Linked DNA regions of Homo sapiens: regions 2 and 3 are each reported to be linked to region 1. Evidence: microRNA targets listed by miRTarBase, many of them from high-throughput screens and not tested one by one. Region 1 holds a microRNA gene; each other region holds the end of a gene's coding sequence. Distances are between the middles of the regions.

Evidence for each region. Region 1 holds the annotated microRNA hsa-miR-214-3p (ACAGCAGGCACAGACAGGCAGU, at 4,558-4,579, opposite strand). A microRNA usually pairs through its seed, bases 2 to 8, with sites in the 3' UTR of a target mRNA and lowers its output. Matches are read on the target gene's strand: a 7mer-m8 pairs with bases 2 to 8, a 7mer-A1 pairs with bases 2 to 7 and ends in A, and an 8mer does both.
Region 2: the mRNA of STX6 is a reported target of hsa-miR-214-3p. Seed matches in the 3' UTR shown: 7mer-A1 at 6,590-6,596.
Region 3: the mRNA of HOMER2 is a reported target of hsa-miR-214-3p. The part of its 3' UTR that is shown has no 7-base or 8-base seed match.

Annotation. Positions count from the first base shown.
Region 1 is chr1:172,134,259-172,144,651 of GRCh38, forward strand. MIR214 (microRNA 214) reads right to left here and starts at 4,649; the gene lies at 4,540-4,649. The region is part of intron 14 of DNM3 (dynamin 3); the gene reads left to right. DNM3OS (DNM3 opposite strand/antisense RNA) reads right to left here. Exons shown (of 4, transcript NR_103486.1): 2 at 10,107-10,179; 3 at 7,878-7,955; 4 at 2,621-6,338. It overlaps MIR3120 (microRNA 3120), which reads left to right and starts at 4,550; the gene lies at 4,550-4,630. It also overlaps MIR199A2.
Region 2 is chr1:180,968,789-180,979,181 of GRCh38, forward strand. It overlaps STX6 (syntaxin 6), which reads right to left. Exons shown (of 8, transcript NM_005819.6): 8 at 3,937-7,858. The coding sequence ends at 7,782. It also overlaps the pseudogene MR1P1. Among named protein-coding and RNA genes, the nearest start is that of KIAA1614-AS1, 19 kb to the left of the region's middle.
Region 3 is chr15:82,841,443-82,851,835 of GRCh38, reverse strand. HOMER2 (homer scaffold protein 2) reads left to right here. Exons shown (of 9, transcript NM_004839.4): 8 at 605-685; 9 at 1,933-2,853. The coding sequence ends at 2,121. Among named protein-coding and RNA genes, the nearest start is that of WHAMM, 37 kb to the right of the region's middle. RefSeq lists an enhancer at 1,260-2,035.

The DNA.
Region 1 (10,393 bases):
AGACAGGAAGTTCTCATCATTAAGATCATCATTGAGACTGAAAGCTGGCCTTCGTGAATTTAAGCAGGTATAATGACTAGGGGGAATGCTACTTGCAACCACAACTCAAACTCAATGATGATCTTAATGAGGAGGATCATCACCATAATGGCTAATAGTTATTGAGTATTTATAGTTCACTGAGCACATTATTTACATTCTCCATTTTAGAGATAAAGAATTGAGGCTCAAAAGAGAGTGAGTAACTTAGCCAGGTGCTAAGTGTCAGTGCTGTGCTCTTAATCATCTGAACATTTCCCAACAATTACTTTCTGAACACTTGTTATGTACCAGGCACTGTCCTAATCACTAAGGATAAAATGATTAGCAAGGAATTCATGGTACCTATTCTTATGAAGGCTCTTTCCCAATAAAGCAAACATACAAATAAATAGGAAAACCTAGCAGATGCTGATTACAGGCTAGGAAGAAAATAAAGCCAGTGATGAGTTGACATAGAGTGTCTGGGATAGAGGACACAGGTAGGGGGTACTTTACATTGGATGGTCAGAGAAGGTTTGTGTTAATGTTCTGAGGCAGGATTGAGCCTGATGAATTTAAGGAGGGTAATTAAGTCCAGTGTGACTGGAGCAAAAAGAGAAAGGCACTCTAAAGATGAGGATTTTGATATTAAGAATGATGAGAAGTTTTTTAAGCTGGAGAGTCACATGATAAGATTTGAATTCTTTACTGATTCCTTTGGTTGCCTTGTGGAGAATGGATTGGAAGAGGGCGAAACTGGACTGGGGAGTTACTAGAAAGCTATTGCTTTCTACATCTATTGTGGTCTGCATAGATAATGGTAGCTTGGGCTGGGATGAGTTGTTGGAATTTGATAAAAATGAACGGATTTAAGAGATGTTTTTGGAAGGTGAAAATTGACATGAACAACTCATCACACATGCTAAGAGTTGCAGCAAACTGTAAGCCTCTTGAGACCAGGAGACATTGTTTGTTCCCTGTCCTACCACCAGGGGACATAGCACTGATAGGAGACACTAACTAAATATTGATTGAATGAAGGTGTCATTGAGCAAATGAATGAATAAATGCAGCATAATAATTAATCACGTCCTGGCATATCAAGTGTCAAAATTAAATTATTGAATTACAGAATAAAATTACCACTAAAGGTAGATTGTCTTAAATTGTCTTAAATTTTGTTAATTTTCATCATTGAAGGTTAGTGTTTTTTTGTTTTTGTTTTTGTTTTTTGTTTGTTTGTTTGTTTTTTATCCTCTGACTATATATATGTGACTTCCTGGATTGAAAATCATTTAAACAGAAAATTAATTTCCCAATGTTGTTTTCATACATTGCCCATATATGTTGTACATTTTTGGAAAGGGATTTAGTAAAAAGCAAGATGTGAGAATAAAACAGAAACTGTCATTTCAAAAGTTTTTTGAAATGGATTTTTGATCTAGATAATTTTACATTAATACTTTAAAATCAGACTTGAAAAAAATGATGGCTTTTCTTTAACTTATGTCTAAAATGTGAATTTTAGGAGAATGGGAGACCCTGATTCAAGGAGAAAAGAGCCTTATTTTTCTTAAAACCAATGAGAAATTTGTTTTAAAAATACATAAATATGTAAATTTTAAGAGATAATTCAAATCTCTGAAGAAAGAGGACTGTTAATTTATGTATAATAAAAGCACTTAGTCAATATTTATTCTATTTCTATAGCCCAGTGTGTAAAGATTTAAATCATAATGAGCTACTCCTAGGCAAGCAGAATAATGCAACATAGGCGTTTCCAGTGGAAATCTGCTAACCTTATACTATTGAGGAAAACCCAACATCTGCATTGAAATAAGGACATTCTTTGGACTCTTAAGAAATTACAGGCCTCATTTTTGTGGGTTGAAGTGTTTGGATAACTTGATAAGGAGATTATATAATTCCCTTATAGGGATATTTACTTAGCATTGTTTTCATTTTGTAACAATAACAAATGACAAATGTAACTTCAGAAATAGGAAACAAAATGACAGTTATATCCCTGGATGATCAAAGTTGTGAGATCAAGAAGTTATAGAAATATTCAGCTCTCTTTCTAGTTTCACTTATACTTTTAAGATTGTGCATATTTCCTACCAGATCTGCACACTCCCTGTGGTGGAAAAGGTCAGCGTCGACCCTGTGAACACTGTTCACACTCCTTCGTTAAGTTATTTAGTTAGCCAAAACTTAGATATTTTCACAAAAGTCCCAGTAAATATTGAACTCTAATCCACTTATATTACTTAAAATTCTGCATGATCACAGTTGTATATTTTTTTACATACATAAACTATCTGATGTTATTCTTTTTTAATATAGGATTATTCATACAAATATTTCCATGTTCTGGTATTATCTAAAGATTTATAATTTTGAAAAAAAGAGTATTATTCAATAAACCATAATGGCCAATCCTATTCCAAATTTATTAAAAATGAGTTTAGATTCAAACCCACTCCCCTATATGCATTATTTGTCCCACTCAAAAGTTTATCCTGGAAGAGCAATATTATCCTTTATATTACCCTTTCCCAGAAGAGAAAAATTTTTAAATGTGCCTCATTTAATGACTTTAAAATACATACAAAACATTCTTTCAAGCATTTTTTTTGAAAATTGAGTAAAAAATGTTTAACAAAAAAGGTGTTAACTTTATGTTTTAAGGAAAAATATTGAAAATGTTATCCTGGAGTGCCTCACCTTAGGATGACTCTGCTGCCGTCCTAGCTTTCCCTTTGGAGTCTGAAGGACGGGTGTAGTCTCCTTAATGTTCTGGCTAGGTCATTGTCTCATTCTGGGAGCTGTCAAGCACTCTCCTGAGCCTTGCAGGGTCCAGTAGAATAATTCCATACGTGAACTCTCATAGGCAGCATTTGCAACAGGTGGTACAAGGCATTTAAGATTGGGTAGAACGATGTCGATATTCTGTGAGTAATTTTTATATTGTCTTCCTGTTTATATTCTACATTTTGTAAGTATTGTTTAGGACTTTATTTGCTAGTAATGGGACTTTTATTTAAGGCAAAAATCTGCATCGTGCAATGTATCTTGCAGAAGCAGAGATGAATTTTAGCAGATGACATATTGCCATAAGACAAGATTGTTTAAATGAGAGAAATTTAACTTTAATCATATTTGTGCTTTGTAGTTTTGCCCCATCATTCAGTTTTTTAATTAAAGAAACTATAATGTCAGGTTTGGTTAAAATATCATTGTCAGAAAATTTGAAACTCACTGGGATCTTAGCTTTAAGACTGAGACTTTCATTTTAAAAATAAAATAGCTGAATGAAAAATAGTTTGCTTTAGTTAAGAATACATACATAAAGTGTTTAATTGTTAAATGTGAAAAAAGTTTTGAGTAGCCTTGTGTTACATTTTTTAAGCTTGACCAGAATCTAAGAAAGATGAAAATTAATTTCAAATACTGAAGCTAAAACATGTTAATGAACTAAATAAAAGTTGACACATTTCTAATTTTATCCATCTTCCCACCTTTTACCCTTAAGTATTTAAAGTATTCATAGACAAAAGCCATCCCTTATCATTTCACTCCAGTTAACAGTGCATAAACTGAAGTTTGGATATTTTCTCAAAAGATGTGTCAAAATATACATTTCAAGTGCATTAACCACTTTCCTTATGCTTCTGAAGATAAATGAATTGCCTGAACATCTCAAGATCTTGAAAGTTTATAGTGATGGAAGCATAGGTTGCAAGTGAATGTGTTGGCCTTGTAAATTCTACTCCTAGAACTGTAGCATAAGCACCTTCTTAATTAAAGAATGACGCAGTCATAAATTTATGTATACCATGACGCGTGGAAGTATCAAAAATTTCAACTTTCCATATGTCAAAAGAGGAGAAACTATTATTTTAATATAGTTGAACACTAGTTGGAAATAGTAGTCTTTTCACTGTGTTTTGCCCAGACCCAGACTGGCAGAGTTAACCCAGACTGGCAGAGTTAACTCAAAGCACTTGATCCTTTGGAATACTCTTTTTCTCCCTTTTCTTTTCTCTGTCTTTCCACCCTATCCCCTTCCAAAAAAAAAAAAAAAAAAAAAAAATCATGACATAGAAAACCATACTTAGTTTATGGACAAGAATTCTTAGAATAATTTATTCTTTGTTAAGCATCAGACTGAAGTTATATTGTTTTGTTATATTGAGTTTTTATATCAATATAGGGTGCTGCAAAGCTGTGTACAATAAAGGTCAAGGGTAGTGATTTGCTGACAACAATTAGGAAAAGAGAACTATAGAATGCACAGGAACATTTTCAGAAATGGGTTTTATTATATTTCATAGGCACCACTCACTTTACTTTTGGTGGGTTTTAATACTTGAATCAAAATAAAATAATACATGAGTTAAGTATTAAACCAACAGATTAAAACCCCAGGCCCCCGAGCCCCTCATTTTGGTTGTAGCTCTTGGTGTAGATGCTATGGTGTGAGGGCTGCTTTCTTTCAATGGCTGGTTGTCATTCAGGCTGGGTTGTCATGTGACTGCCTGTCTGTGCCTGCTGTACAGGTGAGCGGATGTTCTGCACAGCAAGTGTAGACAGGCAGACACATGACAACTCTGTCCAGCCAGGCCCTTGGTTCCTTCAGGTTTCCTTTGCTCATAGACAGATACAATCAGCCTGTTTTCCAGATTTGGTGATTTTGGAGAGTAAGGGGAAAGGGAGAAAAATACACAATATAATTAAACATTAAAACATTATGGAACTAAAAACAAGTTAGACTTTTGACTTTATTCAGAAAGTACATTTATACATTTGTTCCAAATGTGCTAACATGGATAATTTGCGTAACAGAAAACTCACATTAAAATTTTAAGGAAAAAAAGAGATTAAACACAAGGTTTATTCTTAAGTCCAATTCATATTATTACTGGCCCACATGTAGTCAGAGTTCAGCGTAATTGAACCAGATGTTTTTCCTCTTTGCAAAAAACTGCATATTTTAATACTGAAGTTAAAGATAAAAACTATGTTTATGCATGTTTCTTTTAGTAGATAAGTACCATAACCTTGTCCATGAAAAAGAAAATTATCATTTACATGGAAACAGCAGCCCTTTTCAAAATAATTAATGAGCCTAATTTATTTGGCAACCCAAGTTGCTGACTTTGGTATTTGATGCTCTGATAATAGGATCCTACAAGGGAATATGTTTTTACCAATTATATGTGAAACAACAGGAACCTATTTAAATGTCTCATTTTCCTTTTAAATGCAAAGTTTATAACTGTGGATGTGAAATCAAATTAAAGGCAGTTGTGAGCTTAAGTTATCCACCTCTTAATTAACTATAGGGCCATGCTGTGAATCAAAAGGGTACAAACTGGAAGGCTGTTACTCACAGTGATGCTCAGAATGTGTTTTGGATATAGTTAGTGCAATATAGTTACAAAATAGTACTTAAGAAAAGGCAGAAAAGGCAAATTCATTTCATATCCAAAAAATTAAAACCAGATCCTTTGAAAATTTTTCTTATAATTTATATGAGCTAATAGTGTTAAATATGCAGATATAAAATTTAATTCTGGTGAGTTGAGAGTAATTCTATTTTAATATCAATTATCAATTCACATCTTTAGAAGTATTAAGCAAATTCCCCTCCCCTTTTAAAAACAAAAATATCCAAATAGTCAAAATTCCAGTAAGTAGGACTTCTTAAAAAACACAGCACCAAAAAAACACAGTATTGTCCAAGGATTGTATAATTAGACATTTTCTCAAAGAACTTTAAGAAAAACAAACAGTTTGTGATTTATCTTTAATTGTAAAATTCTGAGAAAATAGCAAATAGAAACTTAATGGAAAGCAAAATAGTTTTAGATACTGAGAAAATTACAATTTTCTACAAATCTGGACTTTTATGCAGTGATTAGGTAAGGTAATGTTTTAACAAAAGCTAATAAGTGCCATTTTCTGTGTATTTATGTAATTTCAAGAAAACAAATTTCCGATTCTGTTTCGGCCATCACTTTCGAGTAAAGGAACTTTTTTTTTTTCTTGACAGAATCAAAAACATGAGTAAACTTGGCTGTTATTTAAATAATTACAAGGTTAGAGTATGCCAAAAACCAGTGCCTTAAAATACTATTGTGTTATTGTTGCTGCATTCAGTGCAACAGAAAGTAATTATAGAGTGATTCACTTACAAAGAGTATATTGGTGGAAATTAAAAATTACTATAATTCTTTATAACTTTTCCTCTCTCTCCCATAAATAATTTGATCCAGTTAACTCTGCTCAATTAAAGGAATGATGCATGCAACCTGAAAAAATAAAAAGAAATATTTGTGAGTTTGTATGTTATGCTTTAATATAAAACAGTTTTATTAAGGCAAGATATAAAAATTTTTTGAGCCAGAAAAACCACAACAGTTTTTCAGGGGAAAAAAAAAATCTTGCTGAAAACAATTGTTCTATTCATAAGGCTTTTGGACAATTTATGTTTCTGATAGATTTTTAAAACACACTTACAGTAACTATGTGACATATGCACACTTCATTGTTATGTTGAACCTGCCCCTAAACTTGTTAAAAAGATGAAAGACTGAAAACCATATTGACCTTTTTTTAATCTCCCAAATTATAGGTTGAATATTAGTTTATTATTACTTAAAATACTAGCTAAAACATAAAAGAGCTATTTGTATTATTATCATACCATGTAATTTTTAGTGTGGTTATTACACCTTGTTTTCTTTTTGTCTTTTATTTCTTAAGGAAAAAAATGTAAGAAAAGAATTGTCTTCTAAGTCTTCTGTAGTGAAATTAAACCAAAGCAACTCCAGGAAACTGGCTGTCACGCTAAGTCAAAAAATTCAAAATGAAGATTTAATTATTTTTCCTAATTTACTTCGTTATCTCTAACTATTAAAACTGATAAAAATTATTTGTAAGAGACCTTTGAAAATGAGTAAATATTTATTTCTACTTAATTTACAGAACATGAAAGTAAGAAGGGATTTGAAGTAAGAAAGTTTCTATCTTAACTCAGGAATTTCCTGTCTCAGGTTAAAGCCTGACCTTCTAGTTATTTTAAGCCAGGATTTCTGAGTGATGGTCTCTTAGTTATTATTTTGACGTTATTGTGATGGGTGGGCTATTCTCCTTAGAGCAGAGTAAAGTGCATTGTTTATAAAGAGCAGATCCCTTACAGAGTAAGTGAAAGCTTTGGCGTCTCTTTACCGAGCATGGATGCTTGTGGATGAGTGAATTTTTTCACATTACCAAGTTGTACTTTTTATATCTTATAACAGCTTAAGACTTCAACCAAAAAAGTGGGGAGAATTCTTTCGTTAGGATTTTTATGCCTAAACTGTTTCCCACAGAGTGAAATACATGGGTGGTCTGTAGGCGAGAGGTGGGGGTAGATAGTATATTTTGGTCTTTTACAAACATAAACATATTATCTGGGCCGAAAGCCCGAATGCCAAGCAGGAAGGATATTAAGCCTATTGACTAACTACAGGAAAGTGATCAGTGTGAAACTTTGTCCTATAGTAAACAGTCTTTCTTTGATTTTGAGATCTGTGGCCTAAAAGAAAAATGAGTTTGAAAATTTAAGTCCACCGTTTTAGATTGATCCTTTTCCAGTTAAGAAATTGTGGTGTTGAAGCTAAGGCTCTGAACTTCCTTTCTCTTAGATGGTGGAAAAGTCCTTTTAACCCAGTACCTAGTCCAATTTATCAATCATTCACATGCTAAAATGAAAAATAATTATGAAATTTCTATGAAGTGTAGTTTGGACAGACCCTGAAACAATTTTCTCTTCATGACCACATATAATGTTTAATTTTAATACTTACACTTATTACATCCAGGGGTAGTTTTAGTTGAAGATGCTCACTGTTGGTTAGTTTCCTCTGGAATAGATTCCATGATCCCTAAAATATTTGTATATCTCCTTATAAAGTAATATGAAAATAAAATTAAACATTTTTCTAATTTACCTGGATATAGATATGGCTATAATGTATATAAATGTGGGCGTGTGTACCAGCGCATAAACTACAATCCTGCCTTCATTCAGCAGAGCTTTATAAAATGAGCTTTTACCTTTGATCTTTAATTTAGCCCATATAATTGAAAAATAAGTACTATTCGTTTTCATTTGTTAAAACTTTGCCTCGAAAATAAGTCGCTAGAGCCACATCAAGCATGTGCAGGAACTCCTTGGTTATCCTTTTACAAAGTAATTCTTATATTTCTACTCCTGTACTTATGCCAGAGGCACCCTTATGTCCCTTCTATCTCCAGACTAAAAGTCATCCTGAGGGAGAAAATAGGTGAGGGACCCATAGGGATTCATTTCTTTGAAACAAAAAGACCGTTTAACATGAAGAAAGAAATTGAAATTAAATATACATTAAATGAAAGCAAATTTTGAAATGTAATCATTTCTAGAGTAAAAAAAAAAAAAAAACCCAGAAAATTTGAGAAAAACATTACCAAAGTACCTTGTTAGCTATTTTTCCTCTTCAGTAATTGTATCAATTAGAAAAAATATATTTCTTGAAAAAATGAGCTCCTCTAAGTTACTTTTTTTAGTTTTCTTATGTAAAAGAAACTATATAGATTTTTAACATCTCATTTGTTCTACTAAAAATAATTAATATGGAACTCTCCAAGTCACAATAGAAAATGAAAGGATAACTTTACTATATCATCTAAGTGAAAGTAGCTAAATTTCTCCTTGCTGTTTATATTTTAACTAATAATCATGAATATATGAGAATACTTAATGTTTTCTTTATACACATTTTGGGGTGATCAGAAGGGTAATTTTTAAAGTAAGTTGTTTTGACAAAAGAAAACTTAGGGAATCTTTTATAATAAAATATTTTGCTAAAGAGAACTTGAGTCAATTTTTGAATTGTTGCAAAATGTATAACTTAGAAAAGAATTTGTTCAGGAACCACTGTAACTTTAAAGGAGGACAAAAGAGATTATGTTTATTTTTCACAAACCCTGTAGAAGAGATGTTTTCATTATATAGAATTGTTTCGGAATAGAAATTAATGGGGGTTAAGAAAATTAGGGATGAGGCAATAACATTTTTCCAGAACTTTCTTTAAGGGGCCGACCTCTAAAGTTCAGCACAGATCACATTGCAATCCAGACTTGCTCTATTATTTTCTCTATTAGGATTTCATTCAGCTTGAGGGTTTTCTTCCCTCCCACCTTCCTCCCCCTCTCCCACCCTCTTTCACCTCCAGGACAGCTGGAAACTGACCAAAGAAAACTTCTGCCTTCGTTTACAAATTCCTTTTTTATCAGTGGGTTTCTAGACAAAGTGCCTTATTTTAAATGCTCAGAGAAGTGGAAGCATTGTAAGCTATAGGCAAGAGGGCTCAGCTGAGCAGCAATTATTAACCACTCTTTGATTTAAAAAAAATGTAAAACAGATATTTACAGGGGTATCTAAAGATAGAGGTTTTTATTCCCTGATTTACTCAGTTGCTGACTCAATAAGTTGTGGGTCGGTGCTCTTCTCTGGGCAAATCCCATCTGCATTGTCTGGTAGGCAAGACTTGGCAGGTTCTTCTTTTATTGTTAGGTACTATTATTCCTGTTGTTTATATTACAGAAGGAAATCTTCAGAAAAGCACTATCCATATAGCATTTAAAAACCAGCAAGTATTCTTTACTTTGGGGAAAAATGACTTCAGTCCTGGGATGTTAAAAGTTATACATACAGCCTTCATCCATATAAGTTTTTAAATCTTTGAATTATTATTAAACAATTCAAAAGTAGCCTCATTAAACTATTCTTAAGTGTCTGGAATGAGTTTTTTCATATTTCATTTTGAAGTGGGAAAACCTTTAAGAAAACACTTGAATTATCAATCTTCAGAAATAAAAAAAAAAAAAACAGTAAATCGCTATATACCACACACTTTTGCTCTTTTAAAATTAAATACATCTCTACCCATCACACATGTACCTCTGTTTCCCTTGCATGTTAACACAAATCATGGGCTCCCCACCTAGGTTCCCTTGGTCACAGACCAGGTGAGCAGTCAAGAAGGCCTTACCCGCTGGTCTTCCCTTCGGCAGTCTTTTCTCAGCAGTGTCCCCGAGGGCTTCTTGGTCCCTAGTGTGCAAAACCTGTGAAGAAAAACACTGGATATGAGATTCAAAAAAGGAGCAAACAAATGTCTTCTCCTTGGAAACAGCCCATTTTGTCCCCAGCGGTCCATGGCGTTGCTCTCCCTTGCCCAGTCTAACCAATGTGCAGACTACTGTACAACGGCATTGTCCTGAACAGGTAGTCTGAACACTGGGGCGACGGAGCAGGATCTCCAGAAGCTTCCTTCTATGT
Region 2 (10,393 bases), 8.8 Mb from region 1:
GAGAAGCCCCCAACTGTGGCTTCAGGGGAATGCACCAAGGCTCTCACTGAGGCCGCCTTCTCCAACAAGCTCCCCTCCTGCTTCCCCATGGCTGGCATGGCTGAGGAAAAAGGACACTGAGCACAGCCTGTGCATGAGCGGCTTGCCATGCCGCAGGATAAAACCCATAATGCCACTCAGCGTGCCTTGGTTGTAAATCTAGTTTGATTACAACACTAATCTCTGGCCATTTGTTCTGTTTCTGATTTGTGAACCAACCGAAGACATGAGCAGGGCCTCAGCTAACCCACAAATAGCACATGTGTGCAAACTGGAAAAATGAACCCTTCTTCTGGGAGGACGCCAGCCCAGGCCAGGTCACCCGGCTTGGCCAGCAGAACACAGAGTGGATTTTGGTCCCGTTTGTTCCCCAGTGGGGTATCTATCCTTGTGCAGGGCACAAGCTTACATGGTGGCTCTGGTCATTTCATTAGAAAATAGACAGAAATGGGCTGCACACCAGAATGAATGATTTGGAAGGGAGGGGTGATGGTATAAAAGAATAGGCCAATTCATTCAAAATGGTAGAAGCAGAATGCCAAATTCCATCCACTCTTACCAATGCCCTGAGCTGGGAAGCACAGGAAGCTGCTGCTTTTCCTCTCCCCTTTTTCCCCACTCCGTGTTGGCTGCACCAGCAGAGGCTTCTGTATTTGCCCTGGGCGGGAGTTGGGTATGAAGGTCTGGGCCAGAAGGTTCTGAGTTGCTGCGCTGCTGGGTGGCAGCTGGAAGGCCAGGCTGGCTGAAGCCCTGGCGAGGTGACACTGGGTCTGAGGCAGGTGCAGTGGCAGCAGCCAGACCTCTGAGGACACAAATGGGCTAGAGAGTGGGAAGAATGGAGTGGGGGTAAGGGGGGACAGCCTATGAGAGGAGGCTGCGGGATGAAGTGGGAAGCCACAAAAAATGGAAAAGGAAGTGAAACCAAGGGAGAAATAAGAGTGCCACCCCCGAGGCCGTCCTGGCCTTTCTTCCTTTCTGAGGCATCAGCGCAGATTCTAAGGTTACCTGAACTGACTGAGAGCTCTATTGTTTTCTGAGCAACACGACAGTGGTATAGAGAATTCCTGGAACACACTGGGAAGACACACGCTCTACAAGGTGACAATTCTGGGGAAATCTGAAGGGCTGGAATAATAAAAAGTCAAACATTTGGCATCCCATCAGCTGCTGAAACAACCCTCTCACGTACTTTAAAATACCCAAGACACACACTCTGCATATTACTCACGAAACAGCTACGAATGCACAGTCTGTGCATTACCAGTTCATGTCACACTGTGCCTCAGGAAGCCGCTGAGTGGCCTGGTCATGCATCTTATCAATCTTCTGGGAGAGGTTCTGCCTGACTGAATTGGCTTCCATAGTATTTGCACTTCACAGCTGAAATCCTTAAGAAAGGAGGTCAGCTTCTGGCTCCGTAACAAGTTGTTCTTGGCCACCCAACGGTTGCCCTTCCTAACTGGAGCCATGGTGCTTGGGTGGAGACAACAGGTGTAAAATGGGTCAAGTGAAACTGTGCTTGCTGCTCCGGCTGACAGCGAGCAGCTCTATGGCTACCCTAACATGCGACGGCCACCACCAAATTCAAACTCAGCTGCCACAGGCTGCCAAATGAGAAGTCGCCATCTTAGTCCCTCAGTGTCCAATACAAGGACGCTCCACAGTCAGGCAGCCAGTCCACAGGTAGGACTACAGTGCCCAGAAGTCATGGCGATTTTGTTTTCAGATTGACAGATAACACTATGTTTTCATCGTGCACGTTTTGAAGTATACAGAAGTGCCCCCTGCCCCACCGCCTTTTTGCAGGGATACATTCCAAGACCCACAGTGGATGCTTGAAACCACAGATTGTACTGACTAGATAAACTGTTTCTTCCCTTATATACATAGGAACTCCCTTGCTGAAATCTTTGTATAGGCACAGTGCTTTCCAGTGCAACCCATTTCTGAAACCTCAGAAAGTGAAACCGCAGATAAGGTGGGACTCCTGTGCAAGTGGGTGACATGACAGTGGACGAAGAAAATAAACATAAAAGTTGTCCTTTATCTAAGAAGGGAACGCAGTTCAGACAAGGAAGAGGAAGAGCAAAAGGTCAAGACACAATAACAGTTACCCAAGCTGTAGGGCAACAAGGGTTATCTACGGTGAAACCAACTGCAAGCCTGACACTCAAGTTTGACACGAGGATCTTCAAGACCCCCTTGGCCTGTGCACTCCAGCAGCCAGGGAGCAGATTTATGGTGTTAGTGAAGGACAGCCCTCTCTGACAGCAAAAAGATCTTCCTCACTTCCAGTGGGTGGTGGAACGAGCATACTACCAAGGGCCAGTGATTTGTGGAGGATTGATTTTGCACAACTGCATCTAGAGGCCTTGGGAAACCTCCAGCCCTCTAGCCATCTTGCCCAAAATGTGCGGACCCACAAACGAGAAGCAGCCAGACTTTTCTGATGGGCCTCCAATGGGCACTTCTGGGGTCCTGAAAAGACTTCTTCCCATCAGGTGTATTGTTTCTTTGATGTGAAGTTCCAGAGCAGGGAGTAGTGTTCCTCTGGGGAATTTGGAAAAAGGGAGACACACTGTTCTCACATCAGTTTTAAAGCTTTGCTGTTCACGCCTCATAACTGAGGTGACCCCAGAAATTGCTTGCTGAGTCCATGCAATGGAAACTTCTCATCATTTTCCCAGCTGTATTCTCCTCCCTGCTCTTTGACCGACTGCTCTCTGCCTCCAGTAACTCAGCATCCTCTTTGGCCTGCCCCACCTACAACTGTTGTGGCATGGAAGGACCCCAGGTTCTCAGAAAAACTGCCACCTCACCCTCCTCAGAGAACCCTTAGGATCTGGCATTTCCACTCTGTGTACGCTGGAGGCCGGGAGGCTCAGGCTCAGAAAGGTGAGAGCTCTGGGCCATGAGAGTGCACATCTAGGAAGCGGGGGTAACTGTACGAATTAAGGCCGGATGGCAGAGCAGGACAGGTCACAGGGGTGCCCACAGCAGCAGAACAGGCCATCTCACCACCCACACCCATCCCCCTCCTTCGGTGGGGGTTACTAAATGGGGCTTTGGGATCTCTCACCTTCTTTGCACACTAGTTCTTTTGAAGCTGGCCTGTGGAATGGTGTTTTATGTTTATCCTTGTTTACTGTAGACCAAAAATTGGTTTGGAGGCAGCTTCCAAGTCTTGTCCCTCTCTCTCACTGGTTAGTGGGAATTTGGATAAGGGAACTGTAGGGCTTAGGTCAGTCTAGGGTCTTTTTTTTTTTTTGAGACGGAGTCTGGCTCTGTCGCCCAGGCTGGAGTGCAGTGGCGCGATCTTGGCTCACTGCAAGCTCTGCCTCCCAGGTTCACGCCATTCTCCTGCCTCAGCCTCCCGAGTAGCTGGGACTACAGGCACCCGCCACCACGCCCAGCTAATTTTTTGTATTTTTAGTAGAGATGGGGTTCACCGTGTTAGCCAGGATGGTCTCGATCTCCTGACCTCGTGATCTGCCCGCCTCGGCCTCCCAAAGTGCTGGGATTACAGGTGTGAGACACCGCGCCTGGCCAGTCTAGGGTCTTATGTGACCAGCTGCAGAGTAAGTACCTCTAAGCTATCCATGGTCCCTGCCAGGTCTATAGACTCTACAGAGAGCACCGCTCTCATGGGTTCATGTGTACCTGTCTGGTGGCCTTGTTCCGTGTGTTTAGCCTCTGCCCAAGGCATGGATGAGTTACATGCAGTTAGTGGTGAGATCCTCATGCTGAAGCCAGCCTCTGTGCCCCAAGAAGTCATGGGCTATGATCCAAGAATCTGGGAAGTAGAGGTCTTACCCTCAGGCTTGGGTGGCTCTTTGTTGCATTTTGTGTTATTCTGCTATATGATCATTCTAGTAATTCAGTCCTTTTCAAGTTGAATTCTTTTCAGGTTGTTTTATTTTCCTTTTCCGGAGACTTTTGTACATACTGTTGTCCTGAGTAACAGTATCTCTAAGCTGAGTTACTCTGATCGGAGCTACTGAAAGGTACCTGCTTTCAGCAAATTCTGGTTTGGTTTTATTTTTTAATCAAAAAAAAAAAAAGGAGAGAAAGAAAAGAAAGACCACCCCCTATTAGAAGCAAAGGCCCTGGGAGGAGTAAGGCCTGTCACTGGGGCAGGGGCACTGTCCTCAGGGGCGGACTTTGCTCAGGGATGGCGCACAGTGACTGCGGGGGCTTAAGTCCGGTAACCCTTTGGTTTTATTTCTTTTTATTCTTGATGGGCAAAAAGCCTCCTTTAAAAAACATTATTCTTAAGAAACCTGGGAGAGAAAAAAATGCCAGTGAGAGGAAGACAAAGAAAAATTAGAGGCAGTACATTCCATATTTCAGAACTTTAGCTTTCCAGACAGTCCAATTTTGTTTTGTTTACAAATTCATCTTGCAGTACAAGGTGAAGCCAAATGGTACAAAGTCCACAGAATTGAAAAGCCATTCATATTTATCATTCAATTTTTTGATCTTCAAATGTTATGAATTCTCCAAAAAGGTAACAGGGAACAGATATCCCTTTGGTCTCACTTTATAGACAGGGAAATTACCAAAAGAAAAATCTTGGCTCTACCATCTCTACTTACAGAAGGTAAAACACTTAACAGAGACAGATTTCTGTTGGAGTTAGACTAGATTTCTTTTCACAGCCCTTAATCTCACGAGGTGAGAAGGAGTGGAAGTTGCCAAGTTGTTGGCTACCAGACCCATCAGTCTGTTTAACTCTGGCTAAAAGCAGAGAATAATGGGCAAGTTACCAAGTTTCCCCCTTCAGCTCTGGCGTGCATTCTGAAATTGTGGAAGATCCTCATGTAACACACACGCTGCAACCTGCATTTGCCACACAGTCCAGGGCATATAGAGCATTGTGATTCTTCACAGTCCGCAGAGACAAGACCAAAAATGAGGACTAAAAACTAAAGGTAGCTGAGTTTTTCAGATGGATTTTCACTCTGGCAAACTCAGTAGTTCACTCCCTCCCACCCCTCAAATCATTTAAGTAAAATGTTCTTCCAATAAACATAAATTGAGCTCTTCCTCTGTTATCCATCACATTCTGCCAGTTCTTTAAAACTGGAATATGGTACTAGGTACAGAAGGCTAAAGGGGTAGGAAAGCCCCAAATACTATAAAGATGCACTTATAAGCAGTGTGGGGTTATCACCACTGTCTACTTACTCTCCCATTCTAGGACACAGGGTGAAGAGACCACCTGGGTTCCCTCTAAAGCCCTGAACATTAGGACCACTGAGGAGGAAATATTTGTCCTTAAAAATAAATGTAGGTTCCCTGGATTGTTCTCTTTGGCTGCCACATTTGGAGCCTGAGTGGAGGCCCTTCAAATTAACACTGGTTCTGTAGGGACTGCCCAGTCAGGGTGCAATGGGATCAGACACAGGATCAAATCAGCCAGGGGCAGAAGGGCATGGTGGCCCTACGGGTAGAATGCACTGTATTGTTAGTTAACTTTCTAAATTGTTCTCTATTTAGCTTCAGCCTGAGTCAGGTCTACAATGGCCACTATTTAGAAAATAATTTAAATCAGTGAGGTAAGCACGCCGATTTGAAATATATCCAAACATCATTAAGCCTCTGGGTCATAAAACTTGGTCCCTGAACTAACAGGAGTATCTTACTCATTAATGACTAGGTTTGTTCCAAACGGCCCCTGCTGACACACATGATCCTTTTGTGTGGCACAATAAATCTGGTAATAGCAGAACAATAGCATGGCTTTTAAATAGGGTAATTTTATAATTCCTTAAGATGCTGGTTTGCTTCTTATAATGTGTTGTGTGGATTACAGTACTTAGACAAGGTTCACATTTACTTTAAAAGACTTCTATATTTTAATGCAAATCTAAGGATCATCCCCTTTCTTAGTTTATAGAAGATTCAAACTTTGTAAAACATAAATAACCTAGTACTCTAAACATCTGAAGCCCTTTGTAATACTCACTGTTTTTTCCTAATTTGAAAATAACTTATTTATATATCAAACATTAGAGCGGAGTGTAAACATGGATGTCAATCACCCTTTTAGTTTCATAAATTTGCTTTTAGCTTTCATCAACAGGCATATTTTCTTAACCTACCATGATCTCAAATGAGATAAAATATCCTTCTTCAAAAATTGTTAAGAATATTTATTAAAAAGTGCAATTCAAAAGTTAGCTGGGCAAGCACATCATTGCAAATCACAAAAAAGGGTGAAAAAACCAAAACCCCCAAATAAAACCACATGAAATACAAACAAAACAAAACAAAAAGGTTTAAAAAAAAAGTGTGCTGAGGAATGCACCCAAAAAGACAAGGAAATGAGAAGTCAAAGCTAGAACTCTATCCAGATGTTGCTGTTCTTTCCAAGTGCAAAAGAAGGTGGTGAGGAGAGACCAGCAGCCTCCACCACCGAGTTCTGGCTCTGGGTCCAAATACTACTTTAATATCAGATTATTCATCAGGGAAGTTATAAAAATATCCTATATACATGTGCACATTTGAGGCATTTTAAAAAGTCATCAGAAGGTTAAAGTTTAGTGTCTCAGCAGTTTCAGCTACTTAAACTCAATTAAAGCATCTATCATTTAAATTTGGATTGGCTCAGTTATTTGACTGCAGATGATAAAATCAAGCTGTCATCTTAGGGAAAAAAAAGAACCAAGTTTACCTACACATCCTTGCCATTACCCACAGAGTAAGAGAAGTCTGGCCCAGAGCTAACCTTTTATGTCATTACGTTTCTTAATAAATGTAATAAATGTACTAACCACTCCCAACCCCAACCCCCAGTGTAGAGTGCCCTAAGAGTAAAAGAACTGTAATGAGGACAATCTGGTATCCAAATTCATTCAAGTGTGTTACTGAGCTGTTTAGCAACAACATATGTAGCAATCACCCTCAAAACGCAAGCTGCACCTCTGGGGAGGAAGCCCTGGTACAGCAACATCAAGTCGGCAAGGATCAGGAGCTGACCTGTGGCGACATCATTAACCCTTCCCTAAGCTATGCCAATGCAGAACCCTCTTGCTCTTTTTAATTGCTCCTGTCAGTTAAAGCCACAAGTTGTTAGCACCCCCAAACCCCAGGGTGTTTCATTATTTTCCATTAGTTATTCTTACCACAAAAAAAAATGACCTGGAAAAGCAATTTTATCTTAGCATTTATCCCTGAAAAATGAAACACTGCATTTTCTGTCACAAACTGTTTCTGAGCCTTCTGTCCTCAATAATCATCAGCTCTCAGGGGATAAGAAATGCTACAGCAATGGGAAACGAAACATACCCAGAAGCTCGTATTCCTGACAGGTTTCTTTAGATGGGACAGCGGTGCACTGTCTGAGCACGGGGAAGGGTCTGAGCAGAAGAAAAGAGCTGCCAAAGATGCATGGAATGAGCAACAGCAAAACACCAGTGGAGTCTGTAAGTCCCTCCTCAGCAAACGAGGTCCCGGAAGGCAAGGCAGCAGCTAGTTCTCCTCCGAACTGGACAGGCGGCATGGGGCTTCTGTTGTCCAGCTGCAGCCAGGAGTGCAGACATCTATTTCCTCTTCCCACTGGCCCTTCCAGCGCTGGGATGGAGGAGCCATGTCAATTGTGGGGTCACACGGAGAAAAGTCAGTGCAGCAGTATGTTTCCAGGATAGGAATGTGAGTAGACGGCAATGTCACACGTGCTCAGCTTCTCCTCCTCCCCTCGGTTCATATGCAGGAGGAACTCGCACCCAGAGGCCCCGCCGTCACAGCACTAAGAAGAGGATGAGCACAACCAACAGGACTGCAAAGAGGATGGCTATGGCACACCATTGGCGCCGATCTGGAAGGCAGGACATGGGGATTAGCTCTCACAGGGACTCCACATTCCCCAAGATACAGTTATATGGAATTTATGGCACCCTTTGAAGCAGAAAAGGGGCAGAACGTGCAAATGACGGGGCCATGATCTTACACCTGCCTAGGTGCCTGATGCTCTAATGCTGCTCTGTTCTTGGCCTGCACTTCGCATGCAGTCACAACTTTGCCAGTCCCCTGAAAATGTCTCGTAATAATTACATGCTTTGTGTCTCAAGTCTTTAATTAAAATCTGCGGATCTTAGCTTTCTGCTGGTAGTTAGCATATCCTCAAAAAAGGTGTTGGCAATGGTGTTACAGATCAAAGCCTGCCTGCTTTAATCTCCCATAAAAGTCAAGTCATTTAATTAAACAATAATCACATTCTTTTCTCAATGAGCACAACGGGAGGAGGGAAAGGAGATGAAAGCTACTGCTGGTCACTTCAGGAAATATACAGCTGAAAAAGCAAGCTCCAGTGAGACAGCATGATTAATTTCACACCACACCTAGTCAAGTAAGATTACTTAACTAGTAACTGTGTTAAAGTACCTTGTACAGCTCCTCTGTAAATGAAAGTGGAATTTTTTTTCTGAAACTTTCTGCCCTACCAACAATTTGGAACAGCAGGCACAGGAAACAACTTGACTAGAGTCCATCCAAATGGCTGAGAGCAGGGAGGCCCTGTGAGACAGAAGGGCCCAGACAGGCCCTGGGGGAGCCCTGCTGCAGCTCACAATCCTGTGGTCCCAACTCTACAACAGCTGCCCCGCAGGGCTGTTGTGAGAATTAAACAACACAACCCTGTCATACACACACTGTGCAATACCCAAACCTAGGGCACAGAGGATGCTGTCAACATCAGGATGCTTCCTTAATTTGGAGACATGTAGAAAAAATGAGCAGTCCTTCCACTGATGAGTTTTGGCATCTTCCACAAAGGGCCCGACTGATAACAGAATTCACTAGCGTATGAAAATGCAGTACAACCACTAGGAATAAGAGTTCCATTTAAATAGAAATATAAAGACATATTGATTCACTAAAGTTTCTTTGAAAGCCCACTGATTTTAGCACACTATAGTTATTGAGAATCACGTTGCAAAAAGATCTCAATCTATGAAAATAAACTGCTAAACTCTCCACAAGGCAAAACATGTACTTAAAATTATTTTAAATATTATGGATATCAAAGTCTTAGAACTGGACAAGAGAACTGCCACCAAATTATAAGTAAAGCAAGTACCTTCTAAGTGGTGATCACCTTGGTCTACCTCAGACATACTAGAAACTCATTTAGTTAACTCTGAGCAGGACAAAGACCCCAGGTCCATCACTCGTTGTTCTCAGGTAGGACTGTTCCAAAGGTCTAGGGAAGGCAGAGATGGCCTACTGCAGGTCACACTTTGACCTGTTTAACTATTACTTCAATGGTCAAGAAAACTTTTATAACTGGCATTCTCTCATCTGATTAAAAATGTTAAATTTTTAATTTCCAGCCAAGTATGTAAGAAGCTTAGAAGTCATCACTCTGTCGTAACAAGTAAAAAGCTGAACAAACTGAAAAAGCAAAACTCTTCTTAGATCCATCAGAGAAGTGAGGTCACATGGTAAACTGCTGCCCCTAAAACTGCAGAAACCTACAGATGCATACAGAGAATCACAGCTTATCAGAGCAGAAACCCACGAAGCAACAAACTCCATAGGAACCAGTGTTCTGGTAGGAAAACCTTAGCTTTAATTGATGAGTCGCTGAAGGCTCAGTGTGGACAAGTCTGAGATGAAAAACAAACAAACAAAAACACTCCAGGTGGACCCAGGCGAAGGGGACCCCCACACTTCTGTGGGTTTTACCTCCAGGAGCTTGACCAGGTTCTCAGCGAATATTGGGAAAAATCCCCTCATGCTTCCAGCAGGCGGAGGGGAAAAAGAATCACTACGAAATACTCCAGAGCACTCTGTTCTAAACAAAGTCTGCCCTCAAAAGAAACTAACCAGAGTCTGACTAACCTGGGGGAAGGAAAATACCCAACTCCAGTCTTCTCTAGCCATCCAGTTCCACCTAACAGTAGAAAAACTGGGAAGCACTAGTGAAGTTCACGGGCCAGGGGCACAGGCTCACCAGAGGCTAAGACCTAATCACAGGACTAGAAAATGCCACCCCCCGGCCTCACCACCCCATCTATGGTAAAGGTCTATTTACCACAGTTCCTTTTACCCAGTATATCATGTCCACTTTTCAACAAAAAGGTAAAAGGCACACTAAAGGAAAAAGCAACAGTAGGAAGAAACTGCATATGCATCAGAACCAGAGTCAGATACAGCAGGAATGTTGGAATTATCAGAAGAGGAATTTTTAAAACTATGATTAATATGCTACAGGCTTTAATGGAAAAAGTAAACAACATGCAAGAACACATGGATAATGTAGGCAGAGACATGGAAATTCTAGAATGAAAAAAATAGAGATCAAAAAGACTACACAAATGAAGAATGCCCCTAATGGGCTCATTAGTAGGCT
Region 3 (10,393 bases), not on the chromosome of region 1:
AATGCCGCTAGAGACCCATGATGTAACCACTTATTTTCTTTTTTAAAAAAATTTAAAATGTATTTATTTTATTTAAGATGGAGTCTCATTATGTTGCCCAGGCTGGTCTTGAACTGGGCTGAAGCATTCCGCCCACCTCAGCCTCCTGTGTAGCTGGGACTATAGACACACGCCATGAGAGCACCACACACACGTGCCCACCACACCGCAGCCCAGCTCCCGGCGCCAGCCACCTGCACTCACTGCCACCATGCCTGGCCTACAGTCATTTATTTTCTAGGGGGCAGACAGTTAAGTGCACACATGTTGGAGGCCGTGCTCATGTTACCAAACTCCCTAGGCCTCACTTTCTCCACTTATAAAACAGAAATCGGAAAAACATCTGCCTTGTGGTGGTGTGTACAGACTTCACGTGACAAGGCGTGTGACACACTTCACCCTTGAAATTCCCTGAGATGAAGTATTCGCATGGTCACTATCACTGTCTATGCAAACAGGACAGGGTCCCAAAGCTGCTTCCACGAGCGTGCACACATTGGTGATTTTCAAGAATATATTTTATCTGACTTGCTTTCATGTTCTATCTCAAATTTTTTTCATGTAGGAGCTGAAAGATCTCCGAAAACAAAGTGAAATCATACCTCAGCTCATGTCAGAGTGCGAATATGTCTCTGAGAAGCTAGAGGTACGTGGGTTGGGGGCACAGCCATCCTGGCTCAGACAAGAAGGCACAAATGTCATGGTACTCATTTTCCTGCTTCCTATCACTTTCACACTGAGAATGCTGAAGGAGAGATTTTCTATTCACAAAAAGCTGGCAGTGACTGCACGCCAGATGGCACCGCATCCACCCCTGCCCCCGGGGCAGACTCAGCAACGTTTGTCTTTTGGTTTTGCAAGTTCTATGAAGGCCCCTGTGCATCACCACAGTGTAGACGACTGTTTCCTTGCAGATCCCTGGTGGGGGTGAGGAGCGGGGGGGCGGCCTGAGAGCCCAGGGTCAGGGTGTGGGGCCACTTCAGCCACTCCCCTGCCAGTGGCCTTGGGCACTGACCTTGGGCAGGCCTTCCTCCCTATCCTCAGATTTCTGATCACTAAAATGAGGATTTTCAGGGCTTCCTCCACCTCGGAGCGCCTCTTCCCTGCAGGTCCTCTGATATGCACACGGCGCTTCATGTAGTTACATGACCCTGGAATTGGTAACTGCTTCCTGTGCACATGTTCAGAAAGGTCTCTGTTTATTCCCTCAACATAAAGCTCTTATTTGATATGAAGAGTTAAAGGCTTATGGCTCATTTAAGGACTCACAGCTGTCCTGTCTTTGGGAACCTGCTTGTGATTTACCTAGATGTGCCTCTGTAGGCTTGTGGGGCCCAGCGCCACAGAACATCTCCATGGTAACAGCATCAGAGGGTGCACAGACTGGCTGTCCCTGAGTCATTGGCATGGCCAGTCCTTCCTCTCTGAGGGCCAGAGGCTGGCCTGGGGCTGAGGAGGCCACGCCTCTCTGTGGGACCAGGGGAACGAGCCACTCTCCCATCTGTTCTGTCTCTCAGGATGGAACTGAAATGTGGTCTCTGCTAGCCACTCAGACAGGGATTTCAGACTTTCCCTGCTGGGCCCTGTGTGAGGTCTCCCTCAGGCAGGACTCTGCGTTCTGCCTGCTTTGTTGGGTCTTGGGTTTTCAGGCTGGGTGTTGGTCCCTCTGTGGGAGAGCAGGCAGGAAAGGAGGAGGTCACTGAAGTGCCTGCTGCTTCCCTTCTGATGTCTTGGTCACAGGCTTGTGTGCTGGGGTAGCATGTCTCTAGGCAGCTTAAGCCCTGGCCCAGGCCCTCAGATTGGATGGAGAATGGTTGGTTCAGCTGTAGCAGGTTTTGAAGGATGACTCTCGTCACTCAGTTTTCTAGACCCTTCTCCCTTTTGCTTGGCCAGGCGGCAGAGAGAGACAATCAAAACCTGGAAGACAAAGTGCGTTCCTTAAAGACAGACATTGAGGAGAGCAAATACCGACAGCGCCACCTGAAGGTGGAGTTGAAGAGCTTCCTGGAGGTGCTGGACGGGAAGATTGACGACCTGCATGACTTCCGCCGAGGGCTCTCCAAGCTGGGCACCGATAACTAGGGCTGGCCGAGGCCCAGGCCCCGCCCGTGAGTCCCAAGCGTGTGTGCGAGACCAGATAGCTCTAGGACGTTCTTCTGTGTGCATTGCTTCTGTAAATGCAGGCGCAGTTTGTCGTGTTTCCAAACCAGTTGTGCCGTCCACTCACTCCTTTTCAGAATAGAAATCTCCTCTCGCTTCTCTGGCCTTGTGAGGTTGTGGACAACTGGAAGATTCTGACTCAGGAATCCAGAACTAGGTCTACCTTCAACATTTATGCAGTCAGGGCAGGGATGTTTATATCTTTCATAAGGGCTGTTGCAACCATATGAACTGAAAAAACACGCATTTTGTAATCCAAATATTGATATTCTTTACACCAAGCCATCAGGCTCCTTTTATCAAATAGCATTCAGAGTATTTGAATGTCCACCAGACACCAGCCCCGGGGGGCACAGAGAGAACAACATTCCTCTCTGTCAACATCGAGAGGCTTTAAAACAACTGTTTAGTGGAAACTTTCTGAGAGATGGAAAACAAGCTTCTGGTGGGTGCATTTTCTGGCCCGGAGTTGCCTGCATCCACGCTACTGCCCCCTGCCCCCCGCCCCCCCAGTTTGTACGGTTGCAACAGTGTTCCTTTTCTTGGTTTTAATTTCTGAGCAGATGATTGTGCTGTGGGAACAGCACACAGTGAGGGTGCCTAGCACAATGTCTGGCACAAAGTAGGTGCTTAATAAATATTTGTTCAATTAAATGTGTACACAGAATTTAGTGTTTTAATCAAACCCCACAGCAGAGCTGGGACCCTGTCGAATGATGCACCATCTTTGCTGTGCTGGGTAGTTAACAGACATGAATACCACTGTCTGGTCAAACCCAAGCTGGGGCTCGGGTGGCCCTGGGGCAGGGAGGGAGAAGGGGAAGCAGCAGGAGCTGGTCTCAGGCCCCTGGAGCCCATCCGTGATGCTCTGCCCCTGGGGCTCTCCAGACCCTCGAATCACCTTCTCCCCTAGGAATGGTGACCCAGGGATTCCAGGTATAGGGGCTGCCCAGGGCTTGGTACCTAGGGTAGGATTGTCTTATGGGTCTGGACAGCTGGGAAGAAATCACAGGCATTTCGGGGGGAGAGAGCAGCTCAGCTGACAAGCCTTGGCCCTCATGACAGAGGTGTTCCACCCAGCTCTGCGTCCTGCCTTTTTCAGTTTCTCCTAGGGAAGGGACTGCAGCCATAAACCTCTCCTCTCTCACAGAGCTGCTCAGTGGGGCCAGCGGGCCTGTGGGTGCTGTTGGCATCCTGCCCTGGGAGATTGCCCGTGTGTGGCAATAATGGCTTGAATCCCTGGCCCCACACATCTCTAAATGCCTTGAGCAGGGGGGAGGCTTTGGTGCCCCCTCACCCCTTTGAGAACCACCTAAGAGGACTACTCCTTCTAGAAACCTTCTCCCATGGACGTGGTTAGACTTTCTCCCTGCTGAATTTGGATTAATGAGCAAACAACCCGAGGAAGGAGGGAGATGGGGTCCGAACCCAGGTGCCCTGGGCCCCAAGGTGAACACGAGTCCTCCTGCTCTCCTTCCCTTCCCCTCACGGAGACGCCTCTCTGAGCTGGGGAGTCTTGTTTGGGATGTGGATGGAAGGGAAGGCTGGGCATCTGGAGCACCAAGGCACTTTTAGAGGAGCTCCCGCAAGGTGAGTGGGGGCTTTGGTTGAGTACATAGGGCTTTTGGCAGACAGGAAGTGGAAAGCGTGGCCAGCCATCTTTGTGATTCGGGGTAGTCTGCTGCTGGCCCTTCCCTTTCCCCAGAGCTCCAGACGGCTCTCAGGACAGTTGGTAGCAGCTCCCTCCTGGCTGCACCAGGAGACCAGAGAGCCGAGCTGGCTATGAGTCAGCCCCGTGGCCCAGCAGCGGGATAAGGGGATTCTCAAGCCAGCCTGGTCTGCCCAGCAGCAGGCTGGGTGTGTGGCTGCCTGGGAGCAGTGGACACTGGGTTCCAAACACCTTCCGCTGGGGTCTTCAGATGACCTCTGCCTTTATCAGGTGACTTATGAATCTAGAAAGAGCCCGCTTGACTGACAAGAGAATGCTCAGGTGACATGCATAGAATAGTTACTGAAGCCACTTGTACATTCTGATAGCAGTGACTTTAGAAAACTCCAGAAGTGGAGGTGTAGAAAATGTTGGAAGAGCCATTTCCACAGTGGGCTGCTGTGCAGTTGAGACCCATGATCCCAGTTCACCAAGCACTGAAGAGTGTGGTGAGCATCCTGTGGGCAGCAGGTGAGGAACTTGGATTCCTCCTGCTGTGTGTCCAGCTCTACAGCTGTTGCAACCCTGGAGCTAAGAGTAGTAAGGACTCCCTTAAAGGGAAAGGTAAGTTGGGCTTGGCCGTGAAAGCACAACAGCTTTTACAAAAGCACTGAACTTTCCATTCCTTCTGCTTTTCTCTGAAGATCTCAGTGTCTTTTCATTTACTTTCTTTTAAAATAGTGGCCCTGGAGCAACCTGGACGGTGTTCCCTTGAGCTGGTGTGACGTGCCCTCGTTTATTCTGACATCCAGCCCAGTCTCAGTACTGTTGTCATAACCTTACGCCAGACTCAGGCAGAATGTAAGCCATTCACTCGTGAGCATCGCAGCCGCTTGTGCTGCCTGGAAGCTGCAGGGCCAGGACTGCATTTTCAGTTTGCAATTGAGGTCTCCTGATTTTGGTGTTTCCAAGACTGGCTGCTATACCTTGATAAGCTTTCCTTCTGCCTCCATGAAACCTGGTGTCTAAAAAAGATCAACTAAAACTTGGAACCCTTTAACCAAGAGGACCTTTAAAAATAACCTTTCATTCCAGTCAAGACCCAGCTGGATGCATTTTAAAGTTGGGAGTGGCGAGGAAGCCTTCCTAGTGCCGCCCGGGGAATGTAAAACCACCAGAGCAACAGGTTGGGACAGTATGGTCAGGCCTTGGAGGGAAAGAGAACCAGTATCCACACAAGACCTCGAACTTGTGTGGCCCCTCAGTTTCATCTCTCCTGCCTGCCATCACATTAGACTTTAATTGGGTGAGAGAACAGGGCAGAGACTGTCACCTGCATTTTGCAGATGGGAAGTAGAGACAGAGAAAGTGACACGCCCAGGGTCACCCAGCGGTGACCAGCAGCGTGGACTCTGCATCCAGGTCTCCTGGACCTTGATGCAGTATCTTTTGAGACATGCCACTCTAGTCCCTTTGGTGACCCGTGGGTGCCAAGAGAAAATAATTCTTATATCCTGATAAGAGCATATTACAATTATATTATTTCAATATGTGTCCACAGCAAAGGACAGTTTACAAAAATGTGAATCCGAATGACATTTAGGAATGTTTGTTATAAATGATAAGTTCCACTTTGGAATGATTCTGGTTTTGCAGGAATCTTTCCAAGAAAGTTGGTTAAAATGATGTCTCTGCCTGTGAGGCCAGTTCTATGGAAAACAAACACACCCTGAGTTCTTTATTGATGGCTTTAGTGGAGGCAGAGCAGTATGTTCAAAACAAGTGGGAGGCCCTGAGATCGCAGGAATGGAAACAGAGTTCTGGCTGGGGGTGGCCTGTCCACTGCCCGCCCCTTCCTGGAGATGCACTCCTTTCTGGCTTTCTGGGGAGGGAGCAGCCTTGCTCAGTGGTGGGAGCAGCTTGAACGGGACCTGATCAACACCCAGGAAGACTGTGCACAGAGGGCAGTTGGTCTCCAGCCTGCAGGCTCCATGAGCACAGCCTTGATGGTGGTGGGCAGGCGCCTGCCTGCTGTGGACTACATTTGATGCAAAACATCAAGTAAAGGGTGGAGCGTAATACAGTGAATATGCCTCCCAGAAACATCATGCTCTGCCTATTTTAACAGGGCTCTTTTTCTTTAGAAAAGTCTCCTTCTCTATAGAAACCAGGGACAATTTTGGATGAGAGCCAACCACAGGACGCGCTGGGGACGTTATGGTGGGACCTCACATGTGGCCAGGTGCACCTTTGGGAAGAAGGCAGACGTGATGTGACTTAGCACAGGCACTCAAAAGAGGCAGCCACTGGTCTTTGCTAATATCCAGAAGTGGATTGTTTGTTCCATTCATCCTTCTAGAAGCTAAATTCTTTCATTGCCTTGAGACATCACTAGATTTTGAAGCACTTGCAAACTAGAAGCTTGCAAGATCAATGTCCATGTATATTTTTAAAGATATGCATGCTTTAAAAGGACCCTAATTTCTGAGTACATGGCTTCCCCAAAGAAACAGTATATATTCTGGAGATGATGGGGGTTTTGGCATGGAGAGGGACTCCTGTCTAGTCTAGAAAATGTTACTTACATGCCTCTTCCATGTACCGATCTCAAGAATATGGGTTTTCTAGTTGGCTTTAAACACTACCCAGGCAGGAAGGTGGCTTTGGTAAGAATTTTGAGCTGGATGAAATGTTCTAGTGAACTTACGACTGTGTATGTGCGCACGCGTGTGTGTGTGTGTGTGTGTGTGTGTGTGTGTGTGTGTGTGTGAAGAAACAGCAAAAGGGGAAGTGGGAGAAACAGTAAGGAAGCGTTTTTAATTAAAAATATGTATACCTAAGAGGAGACTTTATTTTCTATTTCTGGTGGTGGTGATCTATGTTCTGGAATCCATTTACCAGAAGTTTGTGGATCTTTTGTTTGAAGTGGAATTGTTCAGTGCCCTACTCTCTTTGACGGTGCAGAGCCTTGCGGCAAAGTGTTCTCCTGGGCCCTAGAGACCCCCAGGGCACCTGGCAGGAGCCCGTAAACCACGGCAGAGTCCCAAGTGGTGCATGTTTTGGCGAGTGATGGGCAGGACTGATGATTCACAGCTGTGAGGCTGTGCTATTGTTTTTACCCTCTTGTACTGCTTTTAATAGGAAGTCCCGACTTTACGTCAGTTGTGAGAGCAGCGTCTTATGATGTGACAGGCAAGAAGACATTCCTTGCATCAAATATAAGAGTTTAATGAGAAGAGTGGAGTGGATAAGTGAACTCTCCCAAGAGTACTGTTTTTTGTTTCCCTTTTTAAATGCTTTCTTGGTACATAAATAATATAATACTTTTTTTAAAGAAATTCCAGATGAGTGGGAAAAAAACCAATCACCTGTTATTACACTATCTGATTATAACCACTGTTAACATTTCAGTTTTTATCTTTTCAGACTTTTTTCTATGCATCTGTGTGTGTTTTATTACTTTTTCCATGAAATATAATCATATTATACATACTGTTTTATAACTTTTATCCCTTTTAATGCTATATTGTGAATAGATTTCTATATCAGTAAATATGTAATTACATTATTTTTAACCTCTATGTAGGTTGTACCTTGGATACTTAGGTTGTTTCCAATTTTTTTACTGTTGTAGTCAAGGACATAATGAAGTTCTTCTAACATCCTTGCGAACTTTTCAGAATATTGACTTAGGGTAATTTTCTGAAGTTATCACTGGCTCAAAAGTACGCGCCTCCCTATCTGCGGCTCCTTTCCTTCTGAGGCATACAGGACTTCACCCTCCATCCCCCTTGTACTCATTCAGGGTCCTATGACTAATTCTGGCCAATGAAATGTGAGCACAGGTGACACATGAAGCTCCAGACAGACACTGAAATGCCCATGAGCAGTTCCGCAGTGTCTGCCTTCCCTTCCCTCAGCAAATGCTGATGTCCCAGGGACAGAGCCTCTGTCAAGCCTGGATCCCTGAGTGACTACGTGGAGCAGCCCCCTTCTCCCTTCATGTTACCCTCACCTGCCACCCTGCATGGACGGGTAGCATGAATAAAAAAAATAAACCTTAGGTGTTAAACACTGGGGTTTCAGGGTTAATTGGTTAACTGCAGCATAACATATCCTGTTGCAACAATAAAAAAGAATGCACATTTTTAGGACTTGTAATATGTATTGCCTCAAATTGCCTTCCAGAAAGACAGACCCAATTATACTCCCACCCACAGTGTGTGAGTGTGTACTGCTTCCTCTTTAACACTGGAGTTACCCTGGGGACAGAGAGCTAAAAAAAATATTTTTTTGGTTAAAATGTAACCCTTTAAGGTGTTCAGCAGTATCATTGATTTCTAAGAGGTTTATTTCATAAACATTGTAAAACAAAATTTTAAGTTGCACGTATGGCTTTTTAAAAACGTTTAGACATTTAAAAAAACACCTTTTAGTCAAGTTTATCTGTTACTTTTTTTTTTTTTTTTAATGGTTGCTACCTATGCCGTCATGCTTATGCAGGTCTTTCCAATTCTTTTTTTTTTTTTTTTTTTTTTTTTTTTTTGAGACGGGGTCCACCCTGGCCCCCAGGCTGGAGTGCAGTGGCGTGATCTCAGCTCACTGCAACCTGCGCCTCCCGGGTTCAAGCGATTCTCATGTGTCAACCTCCCTCCTGAGTAGCTGGGACTACAAGTGTATGCCACCACGCCCAGGTAACTTTTTGTTTTTAGTAGAGATGGGTTTCGCCATGTTGCCTAGGCTGGTCTCGAACTCCTGAACTCAGGCAATCCACACGCCTTGGCCTCCCAAAGTGCTGGAATTACAGGTGTGAGCCACCAAGCCCGGCGAGGTCTTCCCAATTCTGATGGCAAGGTTGTATAAATATTCACCACTATCTTATTCTTGTACTTTTATTATTTCTTTCTAAACAGTTAAATCTGTGATCTGGCTGGGCGTGTTGGCTCTTGCCTGTAATCCCAACACTTTGGGTCGCCAAGGTGGAAGGATCACTTGAGTCCAGGCATTTGAGGTTACAGTGAGCTTTGATGGCACCGGTGCACTCCAGCCTGGGGAACAGAGCAAGACCCTGTCTCTAAAAAAAATTTTAAAAACCTCTGATCTATCTGGAATGTATTTTCTAAATTACCCCAACACTGTTTATTGGGAAGTCTGTCCTTTATTCTATATGAAATCCCATTTTTGCCATACACCTAGTAGCCCTTCTGTTGGGTGCCAGGATAAGCACCCTGGCCTTGAGTGTGCTGTGAACTCTTTATTATGGGTTGTGATCTTCCTGCACATTCTAGCACTGGTACCACATTGTTTGGATCGCCATAGCTTTGGACTAAACTTCCCCATTAAACTTTTTCAAAACTTGCCTAGTATATTGTGCAGGCCGGGCATGGTGGCTCACGCCTGTAATCCCAGCACTTTGGGAGGCCAAGGTGGATGGATCACCTGAGATCAGGAGTTCGAGACCAGCCTGGATAACATGGCGAAACCCCATCTCTACTAAAAATACAAAAAAAAAAAAAAAAAAAAAAAATTAGCTGGCTGTGGTGATAGGAACCTGTAATCTCAGCTACTTGGGAGGCTGAGGCAGTGAACCCAGGAGGCAGAGGTTGCAGTGAGCTGAGATAGCACCAGCCTGGGCAACGGAGCGAGACTCTGTCTCAAAAAAACAAAAAACAAAACAAAAAAAAAACCTTCCAAAAGAAGTTTGAGATAATTTTATGTTTAGAAAAATTAGAAATTGGATTGAGTAAAATTTACATATTTTACACAAGAGGACTAACATCTTTATAATATTTAACCTTTCAGTAAATTTATGTTTTATGTTTCTCAGCCTATCTTTTCTAGTATAGGTGATTTTTTTAGTGTGGTTACTATTGTAAATGAGATCCTACTACTTTAAAAAATGAAAATTAAATCTATCGCTTTTATGACTTTAAAACATTAGACTTATGTAAGTGTAAACATTATTTAAAAACATAATGTAGAAAATTAAAGTCCCCCATAATTAAAATCCCTTTCCCCCAGAAAAAGTCAACAGCATATTCATCAGTTTTTTCCTAAAGTATGTTTTAGCACTTTGACCATATGAGACAACCCTTCTGCTGTTAGCATTTTTCTCTTTGCAATAGATCTTCCTATGTCAGTACACATCAATCTACCTCATTCTTACCTCTGCATAAGAGAGTAGTGTGTAGTTGTATAATAGTTTAACTTGGCGATTGGTTATTGATTTTGTAACTAGCCAGTTACTGAATTATTCTAAAGGTTTTGCTGTTGTTAATTTCTTTCGCCTTTTTCAGTTGGGTAATAGTTCTGGGTAGGTTGATAATTTTATTCCCATATTTGTAATCTTATTTCACTTTCTCAACTCATCACATTGACTGGTACTTTTAGAACAATGTTAAAAAACATTTACATAATTGTGCTGATATTGTACATTATTTGATATATATATATCAAATTTTTTTTACTTAGAAGAGTGTTTCTCCAAAACTATAAATTTGACTCTTAGTGTAAAATAATCTTAATATTTGAATTATACATTCAGGT